Homo sapiens: one gene and its partners. The protein of the gene in region 6 interacts with the protein of the main gene of each other region in a pairwise test. Each region holds a gene or a part of one and is shown on either strand. Other genes may lie near its edges. The genes, in order: ZNF775, RNF19A, CCDC69, ZNF746, VPS33B, MAP3K20 and MIDN.

Region 1 (3,879 bases), on a different chromosome or scaffold from region 6:
AGGGTAGGAGCCTAATTTCAGCAGGTGCCTGGCTCCAAATCACAAAACTATCTCCTGTCATAAAAATATAAGAACTTTATTTTTCCTGTGGGTAAAGGCAATTAGCTAACACAGATGGTCACTCCAATTATGAGGTGAATTTAGGACGACCTGCCTGCGTGTGACAAATGGTAATGTCCAGTCCTCTTGCTGGAGGGCTGGTTGCTGTTTATCCTGAGAACATGTCTGTAACGGGCTGCACCTGCCGGCTACATGCAGGCTGAGAGCTTCCGTCTTTGCAGTTACTCAGGGATTGCAGGCTCAGAGCTCCCGTCTTTGCAGTCATTCGGGGTATTGCAGGCTCAGAGCTCCCGTCTTTGCAGTCACTCGGGGTATTGCAGGCTCAGAGCTCCCGTCTTTGCAGTCGCTTGGGGTATTGCAGGCTCAGAGCTCCCGTCTTTGCAGTTGCTCGGGGGATTGTCCATGGTGCGCACCACATTCTGGTTTCATGCACATTCAATCTTTTAAAAGCTGTTTTTCTCTTCTACTTTTGCAAAGAGCTTTTCTGGGTTGGCAAGAGATTTTGTTTTCAATTCTATTTCCCCAACAGGGGCCTGTACGCATGCCTACCATGGTTTCTTACAGAACCTGCTTGTGGTGCAGAGAAAAGGCGAGCAGTGGGGAAGGGGGCGGGAGGAGCCCCTGGTGGGGCTCTGATGGGTGCTGGGGGCTCCTCCCTCCCTCGCCACCCTCCTCCCTTGGGGCCACTCTGTGAGCTTCTGCATGCCACATCTTGGGAAACCTCTCACCAACTGGACTTAACATCCACCTGAAGAGGCGCAGAGGGGCTAGTGGACAGAGAAGCCACCTTGGTAAGGGGAACTCAGACCGAGGAGGGCAGAGCCCAGGCCACAAATTCAGGAGGACAGAAGGATGGGCCTGGGTCTCCACAGAGCGAGACCCCCAAGGCAAATCAAAGACAGTCCTACTTCACCCACCCTGCCTCCCAAGAGGTATTAGGACCTAACAGCCACTCCAGGTAGTAGCAGGCCTTCCACTGTCCGGGACCTCCCAGAGCAGCTCCTCCCTCAAGCCTCGGTGCCTCTGTCTCGGGCCATACCAGGGCTCGAGGGGAAGCAGCCTGTGGCTTACGTAAGAACAGAAATGGAGACAGAAGGAAGAGGACCCAAGAGGAAGAAGTGAGAAATTCAAAGGGGGAAACACAGAGGACAGGAATGAGGGGAGGCCAAGTCTTTGGGGACCCGCCTCTACCTGTGTGCTCAGGTGGGCTATGTCTGGGAAATGGCACAGCAGGTGTCCTACAGACAAAATCCAGGAAAGCCCTCCATGTGTCATGTTCCAGGCTGGCCAGACACACACGTCCCCACCCTAAGCTTCTCTCCTATTCTGCCTTTCACTCTGCTCTGTGCATGGCGGGCCCCTCCTAACCTACCATCCTGACATGTCCTCAGCCACCTGGAGACACCCAGGAGCCAGGTGAGCAGGCTGCCCAGCAAAGCGCCCCGGCTGGAAGACAGGCATCAAGGGCCAGATGCGCCATCTCCCACCAGTGCCCACACCAAGTCTTGGAAGGCCGCTTTGTCTATCGCACAAGGGCCCCCGGGCCCCTACCGGACCACCTTTCCTCTCTGCTGCCCCTCGGGCTCTGAGGGGAGCAGGACACACAGGGGCCCCCTTCCCACGCCTGGCCCTGGCCCGGCCCTCCGCGCACCGGGTCAGGCTGCAGTTCAGTTAAGAGCCTCACAGTGGGCAGGCCTCAGCCTGGGCCCAGCTGCCATGACAACTGAAGACCAACCACACAAAGAGGGGATTGAGCTAGCAGCAGGTGGAGAGGCCCGGGGCAGGGGGAGGCAACAAAGGAGCTTTGGTTGTGGCAGAGACTTGGGGGTGGGGCGGCCAGACAGCAGCTGGGGGAGGAGAAAGGCCACAGGCCAGAAAGAGGCAAGGTCCTCCCCATCGCCGCCCCTGGAACCTCCCACCAGCCCAGCACAGCTCTCACAGCCTCAGCGCCCCAGGTCGGGCAGTCAGAAGCAGACCATGCCACAGGTATCATCTGCTGCTAGTGGAGCGGGAGCAGGATCCGCCACTAGGCGCTAAGGCTTTTGGGGGTGGGGGCAGCTCCCCAAACCCCAGCCAAAGGCCCAGTATCAGGCCCTTCTCAGCCCTGAGGTCCCAGCAGGTCCTCACTTGCTGGGCACAGCTCAGCTGGTCTTCCATAGGAGACCCCCACAGAAACTGGCCTCTCCAGTCCCAGCCCATGCCCAGCCAATGCCTCCCTGCCATGCTGCCCCTTTCTATAGCCTCATCCTTCTCAACTCCACCGGGTCCCCAGCGCCTCCCTGCCCTCCTGCAGCCCATACCTGACTGCTATGTCCTCACCCAGTCCTCTCTCCCTGTGAGACCCCTCACTCAGGTTAGCCCCAGGGAGCGGGGGCTTGCTCCCACACCTGCGCGTCCCTCATATGCAGAAGGTGTGTAATGTGTATTGAATGAATGAACGGATGAGTGAATGAAACAATGGAGGACCCAAGAGGTGGCTCCTCAGGCTCCAGTCTTCTGTCACTATTAAGAAATCCCTCAGGACCAGGCAATGGTATTCTCTGCCTCTGATTTCAGTTAATAGCAGATGTTTTTAATTTAAATATATGATCATAGGGACATAAGAAACTGATGTAAATGCTAAACCACACACAAACACACCCAGATACAATCATATCTAAATACAGCTAAGTAAACAAAAGTTCAAAGACACAAAACTACGTGAGAACACCTGCAAAACTGTCTATGCAAATACAGAGAATGTGAGATATTTTTTAAAACTCACAGACACACCTACAGATCCACAGACACACAAACGTGCCACTGTGAACCAGGGCAGCACGAATCACTGCACAGCACACTTAGGAACACAGAACTGCAAAGCCACCCATGACACAAGTATCCTTGTACACCCATGGCCATCCCATCAGGGTCACTTGCTCCGAGGAAAAGAACTCAGAGAGGTAGAAACAGAAGCAACATACCCTCATCGAGCCAGGAGGCCGGGGCCATAAGTCACCGTTGGATGACCTGCGCTGGGGTGGGATAAGTCAGCAGGAGCTGCAGCTGGCTGGAGAGACGTTACAGCAAGACAGAAAGCCCTAGAGACAATGAGCCTGTGTCCGGCAAGCCTGGTGCAGCCTAAGATCCTCAGGGCCTGGCCTGTGGGCTCTGGCCCAAGGGGATGCAGCGGGCCCTCTCCCCTTCAGCCATCTTTGGGTGACCCTCAGCCGCCACCTGGCTGGCTCCTCAGCCCTAGTCTCCCCCTAGAAGCCCACTGCCTGAGGCTGGCAGGGATGTCCTTCTCAAGGCCACCCTTCCTGGTCCCTCCCCTCAGGACCCCATGTCTTAATCAAGAACCCCAAGTCCCAGCCCACCCACCACTGAGCCGCTGCTAGTCCCTGGCCAGTCATTGCAGCGCTTTGAGCTCAGGTTCTTGAAGGCGCAGGTGAACGGAAATACCTGCTCCCTGAGTTTGGGAGGAGCACCACAGGGCGGCAAGCCTGAGCCGGATGCATCGGGCAGTATCTGTACAAGCCTCTCTGCCAGCGTCCCCGCTGCCACTCACTCCTCCTAAGCCATCACTCCTTCCAGCCAGTTGGGAATCTCAGAGGCCCCCAGCGCCACACAGGAGCCTCCACGCTCCACCATGCAGGAGGAAGAGGGTTTGCCACGGCTCTGGTTGTGGCACTGTCTGCAGAGCCCTCCACTTACCAGGGTGGTTCTGCATGCCCCTCCCAGAGGTCCCAGCCCAAACCAGGTGGGCATCCCCTCCCCCACCTGGAGGCCTCCATCCCCACACCCAGCATCAGGCACCCTGAAGCCTCCCACAACTCCCCT
Region 2 (3,879 bases), on a different chromosome or scaffold from region 6:
CTGATGAAACCATCCTTGCTCCCACCCCCCACCTCCATCTGTGGAAAAATTGTCTTCTATGAAATTGGTCCTGGTACCAAAAAGTTTGGGCACCGCTGCACAAGAAAGATTGAAAAGTACCAGAAAGTAAATATGTAACAATTAGGTTTCATCCTCCAAAAGAAGACTTGGTAAGCTTATAGAGCAATGGAATAATTTATAAATAAATAAATAAATGTCTCAAAAATAAGAAATTAAAAAATTAAATCAGTATGTATGTAGGGGGTGGGGCATGGAGGAAAGATCATTATTCAGTAACTGGTGTTGAGGTAACTGGCTAGCCATTTAGAAAACAAATTTTGATCTCTACTTATTCATAAACTATCAAATTACCAGTAGAAAACATGTGAAGGGATTTTAAAAATATAATCTTAGAGTGGGCAAGGCTTTCTAAGGCTGGTGTAGAAGTCAAAAGTCAGAAAGATATGTGAATTTGAGCACGTTAAAAACTTTTGAAATTTCTACATTGGAAAATTGCCATATAGTCAAATACAATTTATACGTACACACACACACACACACACACACACACACACACCCATATGATAGCAAGCCTCTTTATTAAATAGAACTATGTCTTACACATCAGTAAGGAAAAGTGCTGCAGCAGGATATAAACATGTGCCTAGTGCACAGAAAGTGAAATGTAAATGACTTGTAGTGAGACAATACTAAAAATATCTTTGCTATCAAAGCAAATGTTCCTCGTGGATTCCCAATCTCACATGCAAATACATAGCCATTAAAGTTAAATTTGTTTTTTTTATTCTTTATTATCTTCTCAACATAAGCATGTGCTGAAGTTTAATAGCTTGTTATTCTTTTGTAATACAGAATACAGCATTTAACATAGTATTTTTTATTTGTCTTCTTTATTGACAGTTTCACTTGAGTATAGAATAGCTTTAAGCTTCTGTAGTGACCAAGTTAGTGATCAGTAGAAACTCTGCTGGGAATTATCTGTACCTATTCCATCTTTACTTGAAAAAAAAAAAAAAAAAAAAAAGACTTAGTCCTCTTTCTGTTCAACAGTGCTAGTAAATATTGTCACATGCTGTTTTTATTGCATGCTTATTTTAGAAGTACCATACATCTGGATGTCAGACATCTAAAAAACAAATTAAAATTAGAAGACATAGGTACACTGCTCTTACATTTAGTATTTTGACCATCAGCACAAAATTACTGGATTTTCTCCATATTTTAAGCTGTTTGAGAAGTGACAGAAGAAACCTAATTTTAGCTGAATAACAGAAGCAAAAACTGTTATTTGACCATGTAGTAGGTTTTCCTCTTGGGAAGTAAGTGTTTTCTGTGTATGCAAACTTTTTGCCCTGCCTTCTTCATTTCCAGAATACCTTTCTAATGATGTGTAAATCATTTAGGCAGATAGGTGGCTATTAGATGCTGCTGAAGTGTTTATGGTTAGATGTTTATTGGTGGGATATTATAAATGTATAATTCTTGAAGTTGTAGTGTCAGGATACTTAACATGTTTTACGAATCCTGAAGCACTTCTGAAGGTAAAAGGTTCTTGTCTTTCCACAGTTAAAAAACTGGATGTAGTAAGGCCGTATGGCTTAAGGATCACAGAGTAATAGCAACTGAAAAGCATCATTCATTCATTTAATACTAAGCACTTGCTATAAGGTACACATTTTGTAAAGCACTAGGTTATCTTACATTCCATTTCAGCTAACATTTAGTACGGTGCCGGGTTTGTTAGGCAGGTTTAACACATGTCAATTTCATATTATTCTTAGAACATCTATTTGAGGTGAGTGGTATCATCCATATTTTGTGGTCCTGATCACTGATTCAGGAATATATCTTACCTAGGATATGATAACAAAAAATAGCTGAGCCAGGTCTTTTGACTCCCAAGTTCTCTTCTTTATACATACAATACTGGATGTTTTTTGTTTGCATGTCCAGATCTACTCTCATTCAGCCTTCTCTACCCTGCTCTGTGCCCCAGGAGGTTGACCTCTAAGGACTGCCTTAGAGGCAGTTGGCTTCTGGTTGGATTTACCCAGTGTGAGGCACTGGCAGGATATCGGAGAGCCAAAGAAATGAAACATCTGTGTTTAGGTACACAGATATCATTGTGTTGCAAATGCCTCCAGTATTCACTACAGTAACATACTGTACAGGTTTGTAGCCTAGGAGCAATAATCTATACAGTATACCCTAGGTGTGTAATAGACTATAACATCTAGGTTTGTGTAAGTGTGCTCTGTGATCACACGACAAAATCACCTAATGACACATTTCTCAGAATGTATCCTGATCATTAAGTGATGCATAACTGTATTTGTATAGATTGAGCTCTCTGACTGTTCCTTATCTATCCTGTGTTTGTGAAGGGAAATATAAACCGAGGGACATGAGGTGAAGTTTGTTTGAGTGAAATGTTTTTCCAGAGAACACATGTTAATTAGGAGGTCAGCCATAGGAGGAAAAAAACACATAGAAAAAGGCACATTAATCATGAGTTTCTGGGTCGTGTATGTATCACAAAGTGAACATACCTTTGTAACCACTATGCATACTGCACATATTAAGAAAGTTTGGCTGGGCACTGTGGCTGACGTCTATAATCCCAGCACTTTGGGAGGCCAAGGCGGGCGGATCACTTGAGGTCAGGAGTTCGAGGCCAGCCTGACCAACATGGTGAAACCTTGTCTCTACTAAAAATACAAAAATTAGCCAGCATGGTGGCGCATGCCTGTAATCCCAGCTGAGGCAGGAGAATTGCTTGAACCCAAAAGATGGAGGCTGCAGTGAGCCGAGATTGCTTCACTGCACTCCAGCCTGGGCAACAGACACAGACTGTGTCTCAAAAAAACAAAAAAAGTTCCCTTTGTGCCTCACCACAAAATGTAGCCACAATCCTGACTCCTAACATTGTACATTAATTCTCTCTGTTTGGAACTTTTTATAAATAGAATTATACCACATACTCTTTTGTATGAGAGTCCTGTCTTGTGTGTAGCAGTATTTTATTCCTTTTCATTGCTTCATTGCTTTAGAGTGTGAATATACCACAAATTATGTATTCATTCTACAGTTGATAAAATTATGGGTTGTTTCCAATATTTTGAATATTATTACTAATGCTATTGTGAGCATTGTTAAGTATGTCTTTTAATGTATGTGTACATTCATTTTTCTTATGCATTCCTTTCTAGGAGTGAAATTGTTGGGTAATAGGGCATCTCTGTGTTCCAATTTGATATTGTTAAACAGTTTTCCAAAGTAATTGTGCCATTTTACACTCCCACGAGTAGTGTAAGAGAGTTCCTATTCTTCCACATCCTTGCTAACACTTGGAAATGTCAGTCTTTTAATTTTAGCCATCCTATTAGGTGTGTTGTCTCTGAATGTGGCATTAATGTGTTTTTTCCTGATGACTGATGATGTTGAGCACTTTTCATATCCTTTTGTGAAATGCCTGTTAAGTCCCCTGCCCGTTTTTCTATTGGATTGTCTATGTTTTCTTATTGATTTGTAAGCATTCTTTACATAGTCTGGGCACTGTGCCTTTATTAGTTATATGTGGCAAAAGTCTCCTCCCATACCCTTAATACTGTCTGTTGATTTTATTCTAGTCCAGTTTATCAGTCTTTTATTTTATGGTTGGTATTCTTGTATGTTCTGTTTAAGAATTTTTTCATAGAAATAGTCTCTTTTGTCTCCTAGAAGCTTTATATTTAGATCTGTAAACCATCTGTAATTGATTTTCACACATGGGTGAGCCATCCATCCATCAAGTTTCTTTTCTCAGGTGGATAACCAGTAGACATAGTATTTTTCTTTTTTTAAAGGCCATTTATTCTC
Region 3 (3,879 bases), on a different chromosome or scaffold from region 6:
GGTCTGGACCCGATTTCTCCCTGTACCCCTGGCAGTGCTGAGGCCGCACCCTCCCCGCACATAGTAATCTCCCCCAGCAAGTCGACTGGGTGAATAAAATCTAGCAGAAAATCTTTCAGTAATAAATAACCATGTGATTTAATAGAGTGATTAGTTTATAACTACGGAGACTTTTTTTTTTTTTGAGATGGATTCTTGCTCTGCCACCCAGGCAAGAGTGCAGTGGTGAGATCTCAGCTCACTGCAACCTCTGCCTCCCAGGTTCAAGTGATTCTCCTGCCTCAGCTTCCCAAGTAGCTGGGATTACAGGCATGTGCCACCAGGCTGGGCTAATTTTTGTATTTTTGTAGAGACGGTGGTCTCGCCATGTTGCCCAGGCTGTTCTCGAACTCCTGACGTCAGGTGATCTGCCTGCCTCGGCCTCCCAAAGTGCTAGGATTATAGGCATGCCTGGCCCAGATCTATCTTAAAGCAGTGACTTTAAATTTCAGAATTTTGAATATTTACCCTGAACATATTTCATATTTATAATTTAAACTAAAGAAAATTTAGAGAAAACTTGTGTACACCACCAAATCTTTCCTGCTGCTCTACCCATTCCCTCTGGTAAAGGAAGAAATGGAGGCAAAGAGAGGTGAAGGGTGAGTGACCAAGTTAGAATGAGGAAAAGGAAATCCTGGGCTGCAGGTTACATTCAGTCATCCCATCACTTTAGTGTCCTTCAATCTAGAATTGTTCCCCAGTCTTTCCTCATGTTTCATGGCCTTGACATTTGACTAATATAGGCTGGAAATTCTGTAGAATGTCCCTCAATTTTCATTTCTGGGTAATTTTAAAGCCTCCGTGTCATCCCTTTAGAGAAGCCTTCTCTGATCCCACAGCCTTGGTTAAGGGTTCTATTATGTCCTTTCACGGCACTGTAAACTTTTCATAGCACTTATATTTGCAGTAAGTATTTCTGTGTAATTGTGTTTAGCATCTGATGTCCCATCTCAGTCATATAAGCTAAATTATGCTGCCATAACAAACAATGACAAAGTCTCAGTGGCTTAAGACAAAATGTTTATTTTGCCCTCACTACCTACCCATTTTGTGTGGCAGGGAGCTCTGCTGCCAGGGATTATCCAGGATTATCCAGGGATAATCACCCAGAGATCAGGCTGATAGAGCGGCCATTACAACAGTCCCGTCACTTAGCTAGACAGAAAGACCTTGAGGGTCTTGAACTGGCAACTAAATGCTTGCCCTAGAAGTGACACTGGTTCTTCTTTCTATAACGCATCAGCCAGAACGAGTTCCGTGGTCCCACCCAACCATGAGGTGGGCCCAGAAAGGCAATTAATCTAGTGGCATCAACAGCTTTTACTCTTCCCAAATAGACTCTCAGCTTCGTGAAAGCAGCTGCCAGCTCTGCTTGTTTTAACCAATGTGCCCAGCACACAGTGCCCTGATAAAAATATGTGTTCAACAGATAAAGGACTCCCTTCCTGGTAAAATGAGTAAGGGACTCTTACAACAGCAACAAAAACCTAAGGTAGGCACTCACTCTGGGATTCACCAAAGTTAGCTGAGCAGGAGAAAGACAGGGGGTGGGGGCACCTGGACTTACCTGTTGTGCCCATTTCTTCTTTTCCTCCTCATGTTGCTGGAGAATTCTGGTTATATCCTTCTGGTGCCGCTCAGCCTCCTCTGATGCACAGAGCTGGACAGTTATAGCTAGAGATGAAAAAGCAAAAAAATAAAAATAAAAAAACTCACAGAGTGGAAGTACAGTCAGAGCTGGCAGAGAGAGTGTGGGAAATGGGGCTAAGGGATGAGAACCCTGGTCTCTGCCTCAAGAATGATTTCGGGTGGGACCAGTCTCCAGAGACAGCCCCTCGAGTCTCTTTGGACTTGGAGATCCTCTTTCAAGGAATAAGCCAATGGTCTCATTTTGTCTTCTGGTCTCTGCCTCAAGAATGATTTCGAGTGGGACCAGTCTCCAGAGACAGCCCCTCGAGTCTCTTTGGACTTGGAGATCCTCTTTCAAGGAATAAGCCAATGGTCTCATTTTGTCCTCTGGTCTCCCTGTTCTACCCCATTTTTTAAAAAATTAGTCGCTGGCCAGACATGGTGGCTCACACCTGTAGTCCCAGCACTTTGGGAGGCTGAGGTGGGAGGAGCACTTGAGACCAGGAGTTGGAGACCAGACTAGGAAACATAGTGAGACCCTATCTCTAAAAAAAAAAAAAAAAAAAAAAAAGCTGGGCATGATGGCATGCACCTGCAGTCCCAGCTACTAGGGAGACCAAAGCAGGAGGATGGTTTGAGCACAGGAGTTCAAGGCTGCAGTAAGCTATGACTGCATCACTGCACTCCAGTCTGCGCAACAGAGCGAGATCCTGTCTCTAAAATAATAATAATAATTTAAAAATTAGTTGTTGATACTTAATAACTGGGAAGCTTTTACTTAATAATTCTGATTTCCAATTTTTCTTGAAGAATCCAAAGAAGAACTGGCAATGTATGCCTTCATGTCAACCAGGGGCTGGAGCCAGAAGCAGCTGCCTCCTCTTTGGCCGGCCAGGATAGGGCTCTGCAGTTGGCTATAGTCTTCACCTCCTGCTGTTATTAAAAATGTATACAAAGGGCCACATGTCATTTGCTTTACCTGCTGGGGCCCATGAGCATCTGAGTTTGTGGCCCCTCACCTTTAGCGTCTCCTCAGCTGGTAGTAGAGGGTGCTACTTGAGAGCAGGAAGGAAACACAAACAGGAAGTCTAGCCCCTGCTTCGGGAAACTCCAAAACAGGACCTGCCAATGCCACACTGAGTCTATCAGATACTAGGTATGACCTAAGGCAGTGGCCATCCTCTCTGTGCCTCAGTTACCTAATACATGGGATCAGGATAATTATGGCACCTACCACATGAGTGAGGCTGAGATGATTAAATCAGGAAACAATGGCAATAAAAATAGTAAAAGCAGGATAGGAGGACTGAGAGCTTACCATGCCTGCAACATGTCCAGCACTGTTCCAAGTGCCTCAGAGGGATGACTCACCTGCTCCTCACAGCTACCCTATAGTCGTGAGTAATATTATTACCCCCATGCTACAGACGAGGAAGCTGAGGCTCAGAGGAGTCATGCAACTTGTTCAAAGTCACCCAGTTCAAAATTAAGGGAGCAGGGATATGAACCTACACAATCTGTTTCCACAGCAAATACTCCTAACTACCACCTTATCCTGCTTGCTTGTGCACAAAAGGAAATGTAGGCCAGGCGCGATGGCTCACACCTGTAATCCCAGCACTTTGGGAGGCCGAGGTGAGCAGATCACTTAAGGTCAGGAGTTCGAGACCAGCCTGGCCATGGTGAAGCCCCGTCTCTACCAAAAATACAAAAAAATTTAGGTGGGCATGGTGGCAGGCGCCTGTAATCCCAGCTACTCGGGAGGCTGAAGCAGGAGAATTGCTTGAACCTGGGAGGCGGAGGTTGCAGTGAGTCAAGATCCTGCCACTACACTCCAGCCTGGCAACAAGAGTGAAACTCCGTCTCAAAAAAATAAAAATAAAAATAAAAAATAAATATATATATATTTAGTAAATATACATATTTAATATATAGTAAATATATATATTTATATATTAGTAAATATATATATTTAGTTATATATATGTACTAAATATGCAGCTTCTGCATATTTAGTATATATAAAAAATAGTATATATAATAAAATATATATAGTATATATATTATATATACTAATAAAATCTATATAGTATATATAATATATACTAATAAAATCTATATAGTATATATATACTAATAAATAAAATATATATAGTATATATAATATATATCGTATATATAGTATATATATAAAATATATATCATATA
Region 4 (3,879 bases), on a different chromosome or scaffold from region 6:
TTAAAAAACAAAAAAAGAAAAAAGAAATTGAGCAATACTCTTGTTTGTGCCGTTTCAGTGAACCAGCTGTTTTTTTTGCTGGGTCATCATCAGTAGACAGTTCCTGTGTAATCATGAGGGGAGGTGCAGGCTGCGCTCTAGTAAATCTGCAGTTTACCATTTCTCCACTAAAATGCCCAGCAATGCTAAGTCACTGTTTACGTAACAAAATTGCACTGGGTACCTGCCATGTGTCAAGGACAGTGGTATGAAAAGATGCAATACCATGTTCAGGGAGCCCACAGTGTAGGTGTGGGTAGGAAATTATTGTGTAGGGTGATAAGCACCGTGATAAGGGTCTGCATTGTGCTGCAGAGGCCTGGAGTAAAGGCACCCACCCAGACATAGACCTAACATACCCAAGCAGGTGATGGCCAACCTGAGATCTGGCATGTGGTATAGGATAGCCCCACTTGTCCACACATATGGACTCCCAGCCCAACTCCCCCGTGCCTAGGGAGAGAGGGGCTCAATGAAGACAGTGGATGGAATGAGTGATGCCAGTTTCTCTTTTGTTTCTGAAAGATTTCTCCGTGGACGATGGCAGCCACGATTCAGGCCATGGAGAGGAAGATTGAATCGCAGGCTGCTCGCCTGCTTTCCCTAGAAGGTCGAACCGGGATGGCCGAGAAGAAGCTGGCTGATTGCGAGAAGACAGCCGTGGAGTTCGGGAACCAGCTGGAGGGCAAGTGGGCCGTGCTGGGGACCCTGCTGCAGGAGTACGGGCTGCTGCAGAGGCGGCTGGAGAACGTGGAGAACCTGCTGCGCAACAGGAACTTCTGGATCCTGCGGCTGCCCCCGGGCAGCAAGGGGGAGTCCCCTAAGGTAGCCCTGGGACGCCTTGGGGTGTGGGAGCCCAAGCGGCCAAACCCGTGAGCGTGTGGGTGAGCGAGTGTGACACTTGTGGTTCCAGGTGCCCGTGACCTTTGATGATGTGGCCGTGTATTTCTCCGAGCAGGAGTGGGGCAAGCTGGAGGACTGGCAGAAGGAGCTCTACAAGCACGTGATGAGGGGCAACTACGAGACGCTGGTCTCCCTGGGTAAGGCCTGACACTCATTTCTCTGTTAAATGGGATTTTGCAAGTCCTCAGAATTCTCCCTCCACATAGTTGTTTTCATGTCAGTGTTATATAAATCACCAGAAACATTGTTGACCTTGCAAGTTGTTACCTTTTGTGAAGGATGAGCCCTGGGTGATGGAGTTAAAAGCTCCCTTCTCCCTGTGTTGAGTTTCCCAGAATGCCAGTCTGGGAACGGCGGTGGCTTCTCTCCTACGCAGGCCCGGGATGTGGACCTTTCTGTTCTTGCTGACTTGGAGCGGGGAAGGCCCCATCTGCTCTCAGATCCAGTATGTAATTGACTCACATTTGAGAAAGACTCTTTCCTTCAGCCTTCTCCTACAAACATGCGTGGCCCTTACGGCAACATGCCTCGAGGTCAGTGGAGAACATGGGCAGACGGTGCTGCTTGCAGCAGACATTTTCTTCATGCCTCAAAACTTTGCTTCCCTCAGCCCCTGGGGCTACTGCTCTTCTCCTTGTTTAATCCTGCCCAGGAAGGGCCTGGACTCTGTTTCTTCCTGGGCTGGTTTTCTCTTCCTAATGGTTTCTGTGTGACCCCGGAGCCGAGGGCAGTGAGACCTGTTAGAGAGGGCAGGAGCAGGTGCAGACGTGAGGTTGTTTCGTCAGCACAAGTGCACTGCTGTTTAACGTGCACGCTCTGTGGCAGTTTCTTCACCCCGGCACTGTGGACATTTGGGACCAGGTGATTCTGTGTGTCGGCGGCATCCTCTGCATTGTAGGATGTTGAGCAGCAGCCCTGGCCTCTCAGGGCATCTCCAGATGCCAGTCACCTCTCCCCCAGCCCTGGGCATGACAACCAGAATTGTCTCCAGACTTTGCCAGATGCCCCCAGGGAGCAAAATTGCCTGTGGTTGAGAGCTACTGCTTTGTGACAATCAAGAGATTTCATTTCTAGACCATTGTTGGTTTTCCGGGATGACTGTCCCCAGCTTTGACTGGAACGTGGCAAAAACTAACCTTCTGTCTTTCCTCAGACTACGCCATCTCCAAGCCCGAGGTCCTCTCCCAGATTGAACAAGGGAAGGAGCCCTGCAACTGGCGCCGCCCTGGCCCCAAGATTCCAGATGTTCCTGTGGACCCCAGTCCAGGTAAGGGCTGGGAGAAGGCCAGGGAGGCATCAGGTATTGTGCAGGAAACAGAGACGGAAAGGCCAGAAAGGGTGTGATCTTTCCAGAGAGAGTCGAGGAGAAACATGAAACTTACAGGTTTTATGTCTTGAGTTTTTTATAGTTGAGTTTTAATCTCTAACTTAGTCAGCTAATGCTCCAGAAATGAACACTTTCTGTCAGGGAAACAGGTGGCAAACCTAATCTTTTAGGAAGAGACAAAGGCAGGGCACAGGTTGAGGGGAGGGAGAGGAGAACGCTGAGAGGGAAGGCAGGAGCATAGTTGACCCTTAACGCAGGGGCCAGGGGCACCAGCCCCCAGTCCCACGCAGCCAAAAATCTATGTATAACTTTTGACTCTCTAAAAAGTTAACTGCTAGTAGTCTCCTATTAACCAGAAGCCTTATTGATACTATGAACAGTCAATAACACATATTTTGTATGTTCTGTGTGTTACATAGTGATACTTACAATAAGCTAGGGAAAAGAAAATGTTACTAGGAAAATCATAAGGAAGAGAAAATATATTTATTACTCATTAAGTGGAAGTGGAGCATCATAAAGGTCATCCTCCTCATTGTCTTCTTCAGATTGAGTAGGCTGAGGAGAAAGAGGAGTGGTTGGTCTAGCTGTCTCAGGGGTGACAGAAGCAGAAGAAAATCCATTTATAAGTGGGCCTGCATAGTTCAAACCCATGTTGTTCAAGGTCAGCTGTATATTGACAACAAAATTAATCCAAAGCTTTGCAAAGAGTCAGCCTTGCCTCCAAGAACCAACCTTAATTTAAACCAGTAGCAGTTGTAGAGCTACTTTGGTCTACATTGGTCAGCCTTATGGTTTGGTATTATTAGAAGCACACATTTATTTAAGGTGAATCTTGTTACCAGATATCAGCGTCTCAGATTTCCCTGGAGCCAGTCAGCACCTTTGAAAGTTAAGGGAAGGACAGGTGGACACAGGAGAAAAACCAAATTCCTAAAGTGAAGACCTGCTGGGTCATTTGACTAGGGAGACCACATCTCTGCAAGGCTCGACCCCTGATTCCTCCAGAAGACCCGCCCTTGACCGTCCCACCTGCCTTGGTTTTCCCTTTCGTCTGACACTGAGAAAGGTGGTGGTCCGCAGAGGCCCTCCTGTGCGCCACTTGTGTGAAATTAAATGCATCCCCCATGTTCGTCATCTCATCTCAGTCAGATTTGCACTTTCCTAAGGGCAGAAGCATGTTCCGGGCTGGCCGCTTTGCCAGTCGTCATCGGGACATTGACAGTTTAGCTCTACAGATGCATTTTTAAGAATCTTCTAGGCGTCAAGGACAGTGCTGAACACTAGAGGACAGAAAGATGGCTGAGAACAGATACTATTGGGCTGGAAAAGAGGGTTACAACCCGTGCGCGTCCCCAGCTTCCTAGCCTGGGTGGGAGGTTCTGGGTGGGTGGGTTTCGTTGTATTTACACCATGTGTGGAGGCTTCCCTCACTTCCACAGCATCATTCAATGAGAGTAAAGAGGGGCTGGAAATACGCTGGTTGCTGGTAAGACCCTGTAACACTCTCTAGCTGCACCGTATGATGTTCAGCAGCATCCGTGGCCTCTACCCACCAGTAGACAAGATGAGTAGACACAAACTCCACTGTCCATCCTGAGCCTGTTGGC
Region 5 (3,879 bases), on a different chromosome or scaffold from region 6:
GTTGTGCTCCAAAGAGGTCAAACAGCAAGCTGTGAGCACATATATTAAAGGGATGTAACCACAACTGGGGGTATAGGAAAGACTTCCCTCAAGAAGAGAAAATCAAGCTTAGAATTTGGGTAAGACTCGGGAAGGCAAAAAGCTATAGGGTGGAGAACGTTCTGGGTACCTGGAAAAGCATGGGTAAAGTCTCTCTGGCTGGAGGGTGGCGAGTCAGGAGAAGGAAGCAGCACACGATGAGGCTAATGGGACAGGAGGGGCCAGACTGTGCAAGGGATAGGAGGCATGTTGGGGATTCTGGGCTTTATATTGAGCCGCTGCTATTTCCAGCAGGGAGGGCTGTGATCAGGTTTGGGTTGTGTGGAGAATAGCGGAGGAATACACAGAGGGGAGGCCCAGTTTTTCCTGTGGGAGCCTTGGAAGGTGAGAAAAGAGTGGCTGGTCATTTCCAACTCTAAGCCCTGGTGTTCCTTTCATACTACCCCAGGAGTGTTCTTTTCTTATCCTTTCTTTTCCCTCCCTCCCTCTCTCTCTTTCTCTCTTTTCTTTTATTTTCTTTCTCTCTCTCTTTCTTTCTTCCTTCCTTCCTTTCTCTGAGTCTCACTCTTGTTGCCCAGGCTGGAGTGCAATGGCGTGATCTCGGCTCACTGCAACCTCTGCCTCCCGGGTTCAAGCAATTCTTCTGCCTCAGCCTCCCGAGTAGCTGGGATTACAAGCGTGCGCCATCACGCCCAGCTAATTATTGTATTTTTAGTAGAGATGGGGTTTCACCATGTTGCCCAGGCTGGACTCAAACTCCTGACCTCAGGTGATCCACCCCCTCGGCCTCCCAAAGTGCTGGGATTACAGGCATGAGCCACTGCGCCCAGCCCCCAGTAGTGTTCTAATTCGTGGTCCTATTCCCATTCCCATTCTCAGGAACCTCTCCTCCTGCTACACTAACAGGAATAAGACCAGGAAAAGAAGGAGCTGGTGGTGGGGGTGGGGTGGGGGGGTTGGAGAACAACAACAGTTTTTTCTTCTGTATGTTCTCTTTCCCTTTCCACTCACATTCATCTCCTCTCACCTCCATAGATTCCCTCTTCCTCAAGCACCATCTCACACGCATAGAACTGAAAGAGAAAAGGAAATTGATTAGTAACTACCTTCTTCTCTGTTCTCTCCATTTCTCTGGAGTTCCTCTGTGGTCACTGATGAGGACAATAATTGCCGAACCCAGTGAAAGACAAGAGAACCCAGACTCTTAAGATCTAGAAAGAACCATTAGAATCATTCAGCCCAGCACTTCAGTTCTTTCTCATCCATTTAATTTATGTTTGAGTAAATTGCTTCTTATCTCCCTGAGAGAATGGAAGAGGTTTACAAAGGAGAAGGAGTTCAGCTGTCTTCAAAAGGTAAGTTGTACAGACAGAGATGAGAGCAATGGCATGAAGTGCTCTGGAAATTGTGGAGGAGCAGATGGGAGGAAAAGATCTGTACAAGGGAGAGTGAGTTCTGTTTAGGACATGCCCACGGGACCTTGGGAGACACAGACAAGGACTTGGGATTAAGTAGCATATATGCTGTATTTAAAGTGGATGATGTGGCTGGGTGCACTGGCTCACTCCTATAATCCCAGAACTTTGGAAGGCCGAGGCAGGTGAATCGCTTGAGCCCAGAAGTTCTAGACCAGTCTGGGCAACATAGTGACACCCCATCTCTACAAAACAATGCAAAAATTAGCTGGGCATGGTGGTGTGTGCCTGTAGTCCAGTTACTCAGGAGGCTGAGGTGGGAGGATCACTTGAGCCCAGGAGGTCAAGGCTGCACTGAGCTGAGATTGTGCCACTGCACTCCAGCCTGGGCAACAGAGTGAGGCCCTGTCTCAAATAAATAAATAAAGTAGATGGTCTGTCCAAGAGAAAAGAACACGCAGAGGAGAGCTAAGGACAGGACTCTAGGGAACACAAGATGAAAGGGGGCCAGAGTACAGGACCTGGCAGGGAAGACTGAGAAAGAATACTCAGAGAAGCAGGGGCAGGAGAAAACAGCAACAGTCAAGGCAGGAAAGGTGAGAGTTGCAAGGAAGGGTGGGCAACAGTGTCAAATGCCAGGGAAGTTAAGTAGGATTAACATTAAATAGACACCAGTGGATTTGACAACGGAGACCTGAGGGAGACTAGATGAAACGATGAAGGTGGAGATGAGGAAGCAGAAGCAGTGACAATAGAACATTCTTCACAGAAGCCTGGCCCTGAAAGAAGGGGGAGCTCTGAAAGGGAAAAGAGATGAAATGGGAGACATTGTTTAGAAGGCATAGACATGGGTGAAGGCAGAAGAGAAAGTCTACCTGGTAAAGCAAGATAATGGAGAAGGAAAGCAGAAATGGGGCCAAGAACTGGCATGGAACAGCTCATCTTAGGAGGGAAAAGGCCACGATCTCTTCCTCCTTTGAGGTAAGTGGGGAAAGGGTGAATATTTTAAAGTAATGAGAAAGAATGCTGAGGGCACTCACATCTGATAATGAGTTGACATTATTAACAGCTAATGTTGTAAGCCCTTAAAATGGTTTAGGCATTGTTCTTAGTGTTTTACAGGAATCACTTGTCTTCATCTTCATACTAGCTCTGTGAGATGTAGATCAATGCTACGTGCTCCTTATTTTACTGTTACACAGAAGAATCCTATTCCTCCCTCACTCATTTCTGCCAGGAAAACTGAAATCTTCAGGCCTGCTTTTAACTTTTAATGCTAAGTAATGGAATTCCAGAGCCAGGTCTGAAAACTGCCAATCTTCATAATTAACAAAGGAGTCTCAAAGAAGAGAGAGAGATGCCTCCTAATATAAAATTAGGTCAAAGAATTTGATTAGATAAGGTGTTAAGTGGAGAACACTCATAAAAATAACTATTTTGTTTTTCTGTGTAATAGAGAGGCTTGTAGGATTATTTTAACTTGTAGGATTATTCCCTGTTAATACAAATCTGTCCTTGGCCAGGCGCAGTGGCTCATGCCTGTAATCCTAGCACTCTGGGAGGCAGAGGTGGGCAGATTGCCTGAGCTCAGGAATTTGAGACCAGCTTGGGCAATATGGCAAAACCCCACCTCTTTTAAAAATATAAAAAATTAGCCACGCACGGTGGTGCACATCTGTAGTCCCAGCTACTCGGGAAGCTGAGGCAGGAGAATTGCTTGAACCTGGGAGGCGGAGGTTGCAGTGAGTCGAGATTGCGGCACTGCACTCCAGTCTGGGTGACAGAGCAATGCACTGTCTCCAAAAACAAAACAAAACAAAACAAAACAAAACAAGACAAGACAAAACACCAAAGCTGTCCTTGGAAGCATAATTTGAAAAGAAAAAAAAAAAAAAGGTTTGTAAGAGTCCAAGAACTAGAAATTATTGCCATGACTCCTTTAGTAACATTCAAAAGTACCTATAATTCTGAGTGGTTGTCCTACTCAATAATTTCTTGCCCTGGTAATAATACTTCACGTTTGTATTCCTAAGCATATTATCCTAAGATAAATATTTGTAAGATTGTGCTATCAATGTTCAGGTGACATTCAAAGGAAGGTCACTGGCTCTTTCCTCTTATTCCTTTTACAGAAGGAGAAAACAATATAAGCCTAGGGTCCCACTTGATTTCTTATTTCAACAGAGACTCAAAGTCATCTCACTTAAATTAAAAGATAAGTACTATTATCAACTCTATCTTCCAGATGAGAAAACCGAGACACGGAGCAGCTCAGTACCTAACCCAAGACCACACAGGTAATAAGGCCTCAAGGGTGGATTTTATCCAGACAGCCTGGTTTCAGAGGCTTCAGTCCTTAGTTACTGCCTCTATTTTCTCTAGAATTTTCTTAGAAAGATTGAAAAGGAATAAATCCCTGTTCTTC
Region 6 (3,879 bases):
TCTGAGGCTGTTTTTATCATAATTAAAATAGGATCAAAGCTACAGGCTTCCTCACTAATCCTTTGTTTTAATATAGTGGGAAAACATAACCATGGTTTCTTCATGTGTATGTGCAGCTTTGCTGGATAGTGTGATGTCATGGAAAGCAGAGCGATTGTTGAAGCCACTAAACCAGCCACGGCTTTACTCAAGGAAAGCACTTCTGGGTCTTCTCATATTGCTATGGATTTCTCTTAATTGTTGGGAAGTTTTCCAACTGATGCTTCAAACTTTAGCAAGAATTAATGACCTAATGATAGGATTGAGTGATAGCAAATGTTATATCGGAAAAGAAGATTGTGGGAGGCCATGACTAGCTGTTTACAAATATACAAAAGGATGTCTTATGAAAAGCAAAACTTCAAACATTAGCATGTTGTGAGTGATCACATGAGAACCAACAAGGCTTTCATGATAATCTGATATTATGCCCCTATTTGCTAATTGTGTATGGCACAACCGGCCTCAAAGAAACATACTATAGTAGAGCAGACTGTGTTATGGTACTACACCATCCTAACTTTTGTTTTTCAGCCACCATTTGTAATGGAGAAGTGGATTGTAGGAATAGCAAAAAGTCAGACTGTGGAGTGCACTGTCACATATGAGGTAAGCTCTGGGGGCAAGAGGCTGGTGGCCTCACCATCAGTTAATGAATATAAATTTATCTGTTATCTCAGAGCATATAATTTATTGGGAGATATACCCAGAGCATATAATTTATTGGGAGTAAACCAACCAACATGAACATAGGAAGATCAATATAATTTCTCTCACAACGTGTTGGGAAGAAAAGAGAACAGGATAAACTTACCCAGATAGCGACTGAGGTAGTACTTCAGTCATTCATTAGTTATGGATTGAACACCTTCTGTATACCATGTAAGATGTTTGGTATTGGGGATACTAATAGTTAATACTAATTTTTTTTAAATCAACAAGATCTTCATGGCTGGTAGGACATACACCTTACAAGGTACGTAGACCCGGTGGGAGTGGGTGGAAGGCAACAGTTATAGTACAGTCTTGGCACACCTGGAAATATTAGTGTGCACCCACCATCAAAGGGACATGCATTTCATTCATTCATCAATTCATTCATTCAAGAAACATTTATTAAGGATCTACCATGAACCAGGCACTATTAGAGGTGCTTACACCAGTTTGATCACACTAACTTCATGTAAATCAATACTGAAAAATATCGTCCAGGCGCAGTGGCTCACACCTGTAATCTCAGTACTTTGGGAGGCTGAGGTGGGCAGATCACTTGAGCCCAAGAGTTTGAGACCAGCCTGGGCAGCATTATGAAACCCTATCTCTACAAAAAATACAAAAAGTAGCCAGGTGTGGTGGCACATGACTATGGTCCCAGCTACTCGGGAGGTTGAAGTCGGGGGATTGCTTGAGCCCAGGAGGTTGAGGCTGCAGTGAGCCGAGATCACACCACTGCACTCCAGCCTGGGTGAGACAGTGAGACCCCTGTCTCCAGAAAAAAAAAAAAATACTGAAAGATATTATTATCCTCATTTTGCAGATAGGAAGAATAGGCTCAGAGAGATGAAAGGAAGTCTTGAGGTGTGAGGTCCTCACTGACAGAATTGTTGAAGTCAATTCCATGTTTTCTGACTATAAAAAACACTTTCTGCGCTTCCCTGGCTACCCTGTTAGCTCCCAGTGGCTGCAGTAAGATGAAGTCCACCTCAAAGAGGACTCTGTGAGTGTGGCATTTTGATGGTTTCCTGGGCTGCCAGGATTTGGCTTTTCAATATTAGAAATACAAACCCTGGGCCAGGCACGGTGGCTCAAGCCTGTAACCCCAGCACTTTGGGAGGCCAAGGCGGGTGGATCACCTGAGGTCAGGAGTTCGAGACTAGCCTGGCCAACATGGTAAAACGTCATCTCTACTAATAATACAAAAATTAGCTGGGCATGGTGGTGCATGCCTGTAATCCCAGCTACTCAGGAGGCTGAGGCAGGAGAATCGCTTGAACCCTGGATGCAGAAGTTGTGGTGAGCTGAGATTGCGCCATTGCACTCCAGCCCAGGAGACAAGAGCAAAACTGTCTCAAAAAAGAAAAAAAAAAAGAAAAGCAAAGCAATACAAACTCTGGCCAGTCCACTTATCCAGGCTGGAAGCCAAAAAGTTTTACAGCAGTTATTTATCCTCACCTGCTGGGGTGCACAGGTTGTCAGGGATGAGGCATCTGAGAAGTTATATTACTTGTCAAAGCATTGCTTGCAAGGTGCAAAACCCAAACAAAAGAGGCTGGTTGGTCTTGAGGAACTTGGAAACTAGACTACTCTACAGCCTGTTAACTGGTCCTCACTACCCAGGAAAAGCCCTCTTGTTAGTAATCGGACAATTAGAACAACCAGATTCTACCTCTGCCTGCCTTAGACAGTTTTGGAGACAGCACACCCAGTTCTCTTTTTCTTCTTCTCTCTCCCTCCTCCTCCTTTTTCAGACCCCATGATGATATGCCACTTTTGTCTGGGTTTTTCACTTCAGAGTTTTTTAAAACAGATTTCCCTAACCATATTGAATCCTGGAGACTCTTTAATTGACACTGATTGGTGACAGCTAGTGAGGAGGGAGATTTCAGAACAAGAAAGTAATGTGTCTTGACCTAGTGTCCTCTCCTTTTCCTGGTCCCCATTTCTTACTTCTTGATCCTGTCTCACTTTTGCATCTGAGACCCTTTCCCCTCCGTGCAGGTAATTCACCCCACCACCTTCACTCAGTTTCCTTGATGATCCAAATTCAGTCTTAGGCAAACATGGTGGTCAGATTTTCATTTATTCAACAAAATAGCTGTCATCAAGTACTATAAATAGAAGATGTAATTTTTTATTTCTTATTAAACAAAGAGGTAAGTTGAGATTTGTCAAATATAATAAATTCTGGGAAAAGACAACCATATTTTTTAGCTACTATAGTTTACTAAGAAATTTATGTTATAATCCATTAAGGAATAAGTGCTATAACCCACTAAGAAATAAAGTGGTTAAAATTTTTCTTTTCATTGAATTAGCATATTTGGGCCAACTGTTCAGAATATTTTCCTAGTGCATTATGATAGTGTTCTAAGAGGTGAAACTGAAGTGATATAATAACCTGGATGACTTTCTTTCCCATTTTATATATGTGTGTCTATTTGGTCATATGTTTCTATTTGTCTTTTTTTTGTCTTTTTCGTTTGTTTGTTTTACCAGAGTGATGTTAGAACTCCAAAAAGCACTAAACATGTCCATTCGATTCAGTGGAGTAGAACAAAACCTCAGGATGAAGTGAAAGCAGTCCAACTTGCCATTCAGACATTATTCACCAATTCAGATGGCAACCCTGGAAGCAGGTCCGACTCAAGTAAGTTAGTGTTCCCGTATTAGATGTGTGCTAGATTCCAGAAACTTAATTATGACATTTCCAGATGATCTAAAGACTCAGAGGATACCACCTCAATCAGTTAAGATCTATCTTTGAGCTTCGAGTAGCAGAAAACCCAGTTGCAACTGGCTTACTCCAATAATTCCCCAAGTGTGGCCCCAGGACCAGGAGCATCGGGATCACCTGTGAACTTGCTAGAAATCCAGATGCTCAGGCCCAAACCCAGACTTACTGAATCAGAACTCTGGGGATAGGAGCTGCAGTCTGCATTTTAAGGAGCCTTCCCAGTGATTAAGAACAACTCTAAAGTCCTTAAGCCACTGATTTAAACTGTAATAAAATTTATTATCTTCCATAACAAGAAGCCCAGAGGTAGGGCAGGCTCCAGGTGCAGTAAGATAAGCTGGCTCAACCATATTCAGAGAGTGGAATGAACCTTCCCTTCTTTCTGC
Region 7 (4,337 bases), on a different chromosome or scaffold from region 6:
GCTAATTTTTGTATTTTTAGTAGAGACAGGGTTTCACCATGTTGGCCAGGCTGGTCTCAATCTCTTGACCTTGTGATCCGCCCGCCTCGGCCTCCCAAAGTGCTGGGATTACAGGCGTGAGCCACCGCGCCCGACCGCATCATCTTTTTTATGTGACAAACTCCTAGTCATTCCTCAAACCGCAGCCCCTGTGACCCCCTTCCAAGGGTTATCCCAGCCTCTCCCTCTCTGGCCTAGCCCTGACCCTTCGGGGCTGGGTGTGCCTGTCAAGGTGGGGGCCACGGCTGCCGGGAGCATGGGTGGCAGCCGGAAGGAGACCTGGGGAGGAGCGCAGCCCTGGGAGGGGCGCCCATGGCCAGGGTGGGGGTGGAGGTGGTCAGGCCAGATAAAGGGAGGGGCCAGATGAGTGGACAGGAGGTGCTCCCGTAGGAATGGGGTCCCCTTCTCTAAATAGAGGGGCAGGACGGGGCCCACCTCAACCAGGACCATCCTCAAAAAGCCGACGGGGAAGGGTGAGATGCACACCACATTCGTGTCTCATTGGCTGTGGCCTCAGTTTCTTCATCTGTAAAATGGGGTAATGCCCACCCCAAAGGCTGGGAACCAGTGCATGTCCTGCATTAATGGGGGGTGATGGCCCCAAAGTGATCCTGCCGCATCCCCTCACCACACTCCCACCCACCCTGGAGAAACTGAGGCTTGGAGAGGCCAGTTACCTCCCGGGGTCACAGCATAGCCGGCTGGTGACTGGCTGGGCACAAGGCAGGCCTGGCACTGGCTAATCGCTCCATAAATGCCCTCTGAGGTCACCATTGACAGATGCAGGAGGCCAGGGCTGGCCAGGGCACCCCCACTCTACGGCAGGTGACTCCAGCCTGTTTTCCTGGACGACAGCCGCTGACTCAGGCCCCTCTTCCCGTCCCCCCCACGCGGGCGCCCCCAGGCGGAAGCACCGGGCCTGGGGCGACAGGAAGGGGGCGGGGCAGCGAGTCGCGCTGTACACCCCAAAACCCTGTCCCGCTGACGATTCGGGGTGCATCTCAGCCCGCGGCGAGGCGGGCCGAGACCCTTGGCTCGGGGCATTCAAGGGGAGTCCCCCCATGAACTGCGCCAAGCCTGGGTCCCGGGTGGCCCAGCCGTCAAGGCGCCCCAGGGCCAGGGCCGGCAGGCAGGGGCGGGGGCCAGTCTGCGTCACCGCCCGCCCGGCCCCCCGCCCCCCTGCCCGCCCTAACTCCACCCCGAGGGAAGGCGGCGCGGATAAAGGCTGAGGGCCGCGCGCTTGGCCCAGACCGGCCCGGCCAGCGCGCATTCGGCCCCGGACGAAGGTACTCGCAGCACTTGGAGCGCAGAACCGGCCGCGCCCGGTGAGTGTGGAGGGGGGGGACCTGCGGGCCGAGGAAGGGTGCCCACTCTAGATGGCTCAGGATGCCCGCACTTTTCTTTGTTCTTGGGACAGGAGGGATCGGGGAGCCTCCGGTCCTGGGAAGCCCCCCGGGGTGCGGGGTGGGAGGGGCTCCGCGCAGCCAGCGCCGCCCTGGCCGGACCTCAGCCCCCGCCCCGCCCCCCGGGGCACTCCCCCTTCACCGCGGGTGACCTTGAACTGGTTGCCGTTCCGCCCTCCGTTGCCCAGCCACACGGTCCCAGTCTCCCGACTACAGTCTTTCGTTCCCGATCGGGGTTCCTCCCCCGCGCGCAGCCCAGTCGTCTTCCTCCCCTGCCAGGGGCAGCGCGGCGCCCCCTCCCCGGGACTCCGGGCGGCGCTCCCAGGCGGGCCCGGCAGAGGGCGCGCCCGAGCTGCTGACTCACCGCATCCCCGAGCGCGCGCGGGCGCAGCCGGGGACGCCGCGTCACGTCACGGCTCGAGCGGGCGCGCCTCGGGGAAACGGGTTCTGCCCGCGGCCGGCGGGTGGGCGCGCGGGGCCCCCGGCGGCAGCCACCCGGCCACGTCACCGAGGTGCGGGCGCCCCGCCCCGGCCACAACTCCGCCCCCACGCACCACGCCCTCCCCGGGGCCGCGGCCCTAGCCTCACCGTCGCCCGCCCGCCCCGGGACCCCGGCCACGAGGCGCGGACTTCGCGCTCCCGCTTCCGCTCGCGGCTTTTCCCGGACGAAGGCGGCGGGGTGGCCCCACGACTTCCTGCCCCTCCCGGCGCCGGGAACAATGGCCCGCGCCCCCTCCCGCTCCCGGCCGCTCCCTTGGGATCGCGAGGGGTACCAGACCCGTCTCCAGACCTGGGTCCCGCGCCCCCCGGGGCGCGCCCGCCCTTTGTTGCGGGCTCCGGGCGCTTATGAATGGCTGCGGGCGCGGGCGGGGCGGGGGCGGGCGCGGAGAGGCGCCAGCCCCGCCCCCGCTGCGCTCCCCTTGGTCGCCTGGGCGCTGGGGGCGGGGCGAGGGGGCGGGCCCGGCTGCCACGTGGGGCGGTGCCGCGGCGGCTCTCATAGGCCCGGGCTCGCGGCCGACTGGGCGCTCGGCGCGCGGCGATTGGCCGGCGCCCGGCCGGCGGAGTAAGTAGTGAATGGGAGGGGGCGGCGGCCCCGCCCCCTGGAACGTTGATACATTATAACTTTTTTTTCTTGTTACTTTCACCCCCAGATCCTCCGAGCGGCGGCGACGGCTGTTGCTAAGGGAGGGGACGCGCGAGGAAGCGCGACCCGGGCGGCAGACGGCACCCAGCGCCACCAGCCGAGCGGCGCCCCCTCCCCAGGACCCTTAACCGCGCCGCGTCCCGGTCGCGCCCGCCGCCCTTTGAAGGAGAAGCAAGTGCCGTCCCCACCCCCGGAAGGCGCCCCCAGGAGCCGGAGCGACCTCGGAGCGCCACTCGGATTTTGGATTTCGGTCTCGCATTCCGCGGCCGGGACTTTCTCGAGGAGGACGCGCGCTGCTCCGCGCCCCCGAGTGCCCGGAGGACCCGGCATCCGGGGAGCCTCTCGCCCCTGTCCCGGAGGCGCGGCGAGGATTGGCGGCGCCCGCCGCCCCCAGCCCCCCAGCGCGCGCCGGGGATGGAGCCGCAGCCCGGCGGCGCCCGGAGCTGCCGGCGCGGGGCCCCCGGCGGCGCCTGCGAGCTGGGCCCGGCGGCCGAGGCGGCGCCCATGAGCCTCGCCATCCACAGCACCACGGGCACCCGCTACGACCTGGCCGTGCCGCCCGACGAGACGGTGGAGGGGCTGCGCAAGCGGTTGTCCCAGCGCCTCAAAGTGCCCAAGGAGCGCCTGGCTCTTCTCCACAAAGACACGTAGGTACCGCGCGCCCCCGGCCGGCCGCCCCCTCGGGCCCCGGCCCCCGGGCGGGAACAAAGAGCGCGCCGCGCGGGGAAGGCAGGGGGCGGCCAGACAGGGGGCGGGGGCGCGCCGCGCGCTCTCGGGCGCCCTCTGCTCGGCCTCGCCTGCCTCGGCCCCCTCCCCCGCCCGGGGTCGCCGCACAAAGGCGGCTGCGAGGGCGTCCCGGGCCGGGCTTCGGCGGCCCCCCTTGGGGGCGGGCAGGAATCCCAGGGCGTTGCGGGGGTCCCGGCTGCGGGTGTGGGGGCCGCCACCGCCCCCTCCCGCCTGCGTCCGCGCCGGCTTCCGCATCTGCTCGGCGGCCTCCTCTGCGTCTGGCTGTCTCCCCCCACTTGCGTCTCTCTCCCCCCCTTTGTTCTCGCCTCCGAGCGCTCCCCGCAGCCTCCCCTCCCCCCTGGTATTTAAATCGCCTGCAGGCCCGGAGCCCTCCCCCCGCGGGCCTCCGGGGACACGCAGTGTCCATCCCAGTGGAGGGGCCCATCGGGGGAGGGGCGGAGGGGGAGGGTCTCCTTTGTCTGCGCGGCGGCGGCCGCCTGCGCCGGGGAGGGAGGAGGAGGGGGAGCCCGGCCCGGCGCAACCCCCAGGGCCTCTCCTCGGGCCGAAACCCGTGGTTCCTACAAAGAGGAGCCAGGACTAGAATTAGGGAATTGGGGGCAGGGGCTGCCCTGGGGTCGTGGGGGAAGGTGGCATAGAGCACACTGGGGCCCAGAGGAGGAGAAAGTGCCTGGTTGGGGTGCAGAGGGGGTGCCAGAGTCCAGGGCGGGGGTTCCACTGGAGGGAAGGGGTCCGAATCGCCAGGATGGGGCTCCCAGCACCAGACGGAGACCTCTCTGCACGCGCTTAGGGCCCTGGATCTGGAAGCCGGGAAGGGGTGGGGGTGGGAACTTATCCGTCTCTCCCCACACAAGCACAGCCCTCCCCCGCGGCCTCTGCTTCCGCGTCCCTGTGTCGTCTCCGCGGAGTCTCATGCTCTTCCTTCCTCCCCCCAGCCGGCTCAGTTCGGGGAAGCTGCAGGAGTTCGGCGTGGGTGATGGCAGCAAGCTGACCTTGGTACCCACCGT

Evidence for each region.
Region 1: the proteins of MAP3K20 (region 6) and ZNF775 interact in a two-hybrid assay, tested with the Homo sapiens proteins (one large-scale study listed by BioGRID and IntAct).
Region 2: the proteins of MAP3K20 (region 6) and RNF19A interact in a two-hybrid assay, tested with the Homo sapiens proteins (one large-scale study listed by BioGRID and IntAct).
Region 3: the proteins of MAP3K20 (region 6) and CCDC69 interact in a two-hybrid assay, tested with the Homo sapiens proteins (one large-scale study listed by BioGRID and IntAct).
Region 4: the proteins of MAP3K20 (region 6) and ZNF746 interact in a two-hybrid assay, tested with the Homo sapiens proteins (one large-scale study listed by BioGRID and IntAct).
Region 5: the proteins of MAP3K20 (region 6) and VPS33B interact in a two-hybrid assay, tested with the Homo sapiens proteins (one large-scale study listed by BioGRID and IntAct).
Region 7: the proteins of MAP3K20 (region 6) and MIDN interact in a two-hybrid assay, tested with the Homo sapiens proteins (one large-scale study listed by BioGRID and IntAct).

What each region holds. Positions count from the first base shown.
Region 1 is NC_000007.14:150,381,968-150,385,846, reverse strand, and holds part of ZNF775 (zinc finger protein 775), read right to left. Parts: exon of another isoform or gene 3,024-3,879; intron 2,047-3,023; exon of another isoform or gene 1,856-2,046; intron 1-1,855. UniProt on the Homo sapiens protein: May be involved in transcriptional regulation.
Region 2 is NC_000008.11:100,289,134-100,293,012, reverse strand, and holds part of RNF19A (E3 ubiquitin-protein ligase RNF19A), read left to right. Parts: intron 1-3,879. UniProt on the Homo sapiens protein: E3 ubiquitin-protein ligase which accepts ubiquitin from E2 ubiquitin-conjugating enzymes UBE2L3 and UBE2L6 in the form of a thioester and then directly transfers the ubiquitin to targeted substrates, such as SNCAIP or CASR.
Region 3 is NC_000005.10:151,199,973-151,203,851, forward strand, and holds part of CCDC69 (coiled-coil domain-containing protein 69), read right to left. Parts: intron 1,717-3,879; coding exon 1,610-1,716; intron 1-1,609. UniProt on the Homo sapiens protein: May act as a scaffold to regulate the recruitment and assembly of spindle midzone components. Required for the localization of AURKB and PLK1 to the spindle midzone.
Region 4 is NC_000007.14:149,491,189-149,495,067, reverse strand, and holds part of ZNF746 (zinc finger protein 746), read left to right. Parts: intron 1-564; coding exon 565-864; intron 865-952; coding exon 953-1,079; intron 1,080-2,095; coding exon 2,096-2,209; intron 2,210-3,879.
Region 5 is NC_000015.10:91,008,735-91,012,613, forward strand, and holds part of VPS33B (vacuolar protein sorting-associated protein 33B), read right to left. Parts: exon of another isoform or gene 3,700-3,879; intron 2,436-3,699; exon of another isoform or gene 1,820-2,435; intron 1,113-1,819; coding exon 1,067-1,112; exon of another isoform or gene 1,057-1,066; coding exon of another isoform or gene 1,051-1,056; intron 243-1,050; coding exon of another isoform or gene 170-242; intron 1-169. UniProt on the Homo sapiens protein: May play a role in vesicle-mediated protein trafficking to lysosomal compartments and in membrane docking/fusion reactions of late endosomes/lysosomes.
Region 6 is NC_000002.12:173,260,490-173,264,368, forward strand, and holds part of MAP3K20 (mitogen-activated protein kinase kinase kinase 20), read left to right. Parts: intron 1-573; coding exon 574-648; intron 649-3,255; coding exon 3,256-3,406; intron 3,407-3,879. UniProt on the Homo sapiens protein: Stress-activated component of a protein kinase signal transduction cascade that promotes programmed cell death in response to various stress, such as ribosomal stress, osmotic shock and ionizing radiation.
Region 7 is NC_000019.10:1,247,297-1,251,633, forward strand, and holds the start of MIDN (midnolin), read left to right. Parts: upstream 1-1,286; 5' UTR 1,287-1,364; intron 1,365-2,591; exon of another isoform or gene 2,592-2,593; 5' UTR 2,594-3,000; coding exon 3,001-3,233; intron 3,234-4,265; coding exon 4,266-4,337. UniProt on the Homo sapiens protein: Facilitates the ubiquitin-independent proteasomal degradation of stimulus-induced transcription factors such as FOSB, EGR1, NR4A1, and IRF4 to the proteasome for degradation. Promotes also the degradation of other substrates such as CBX4.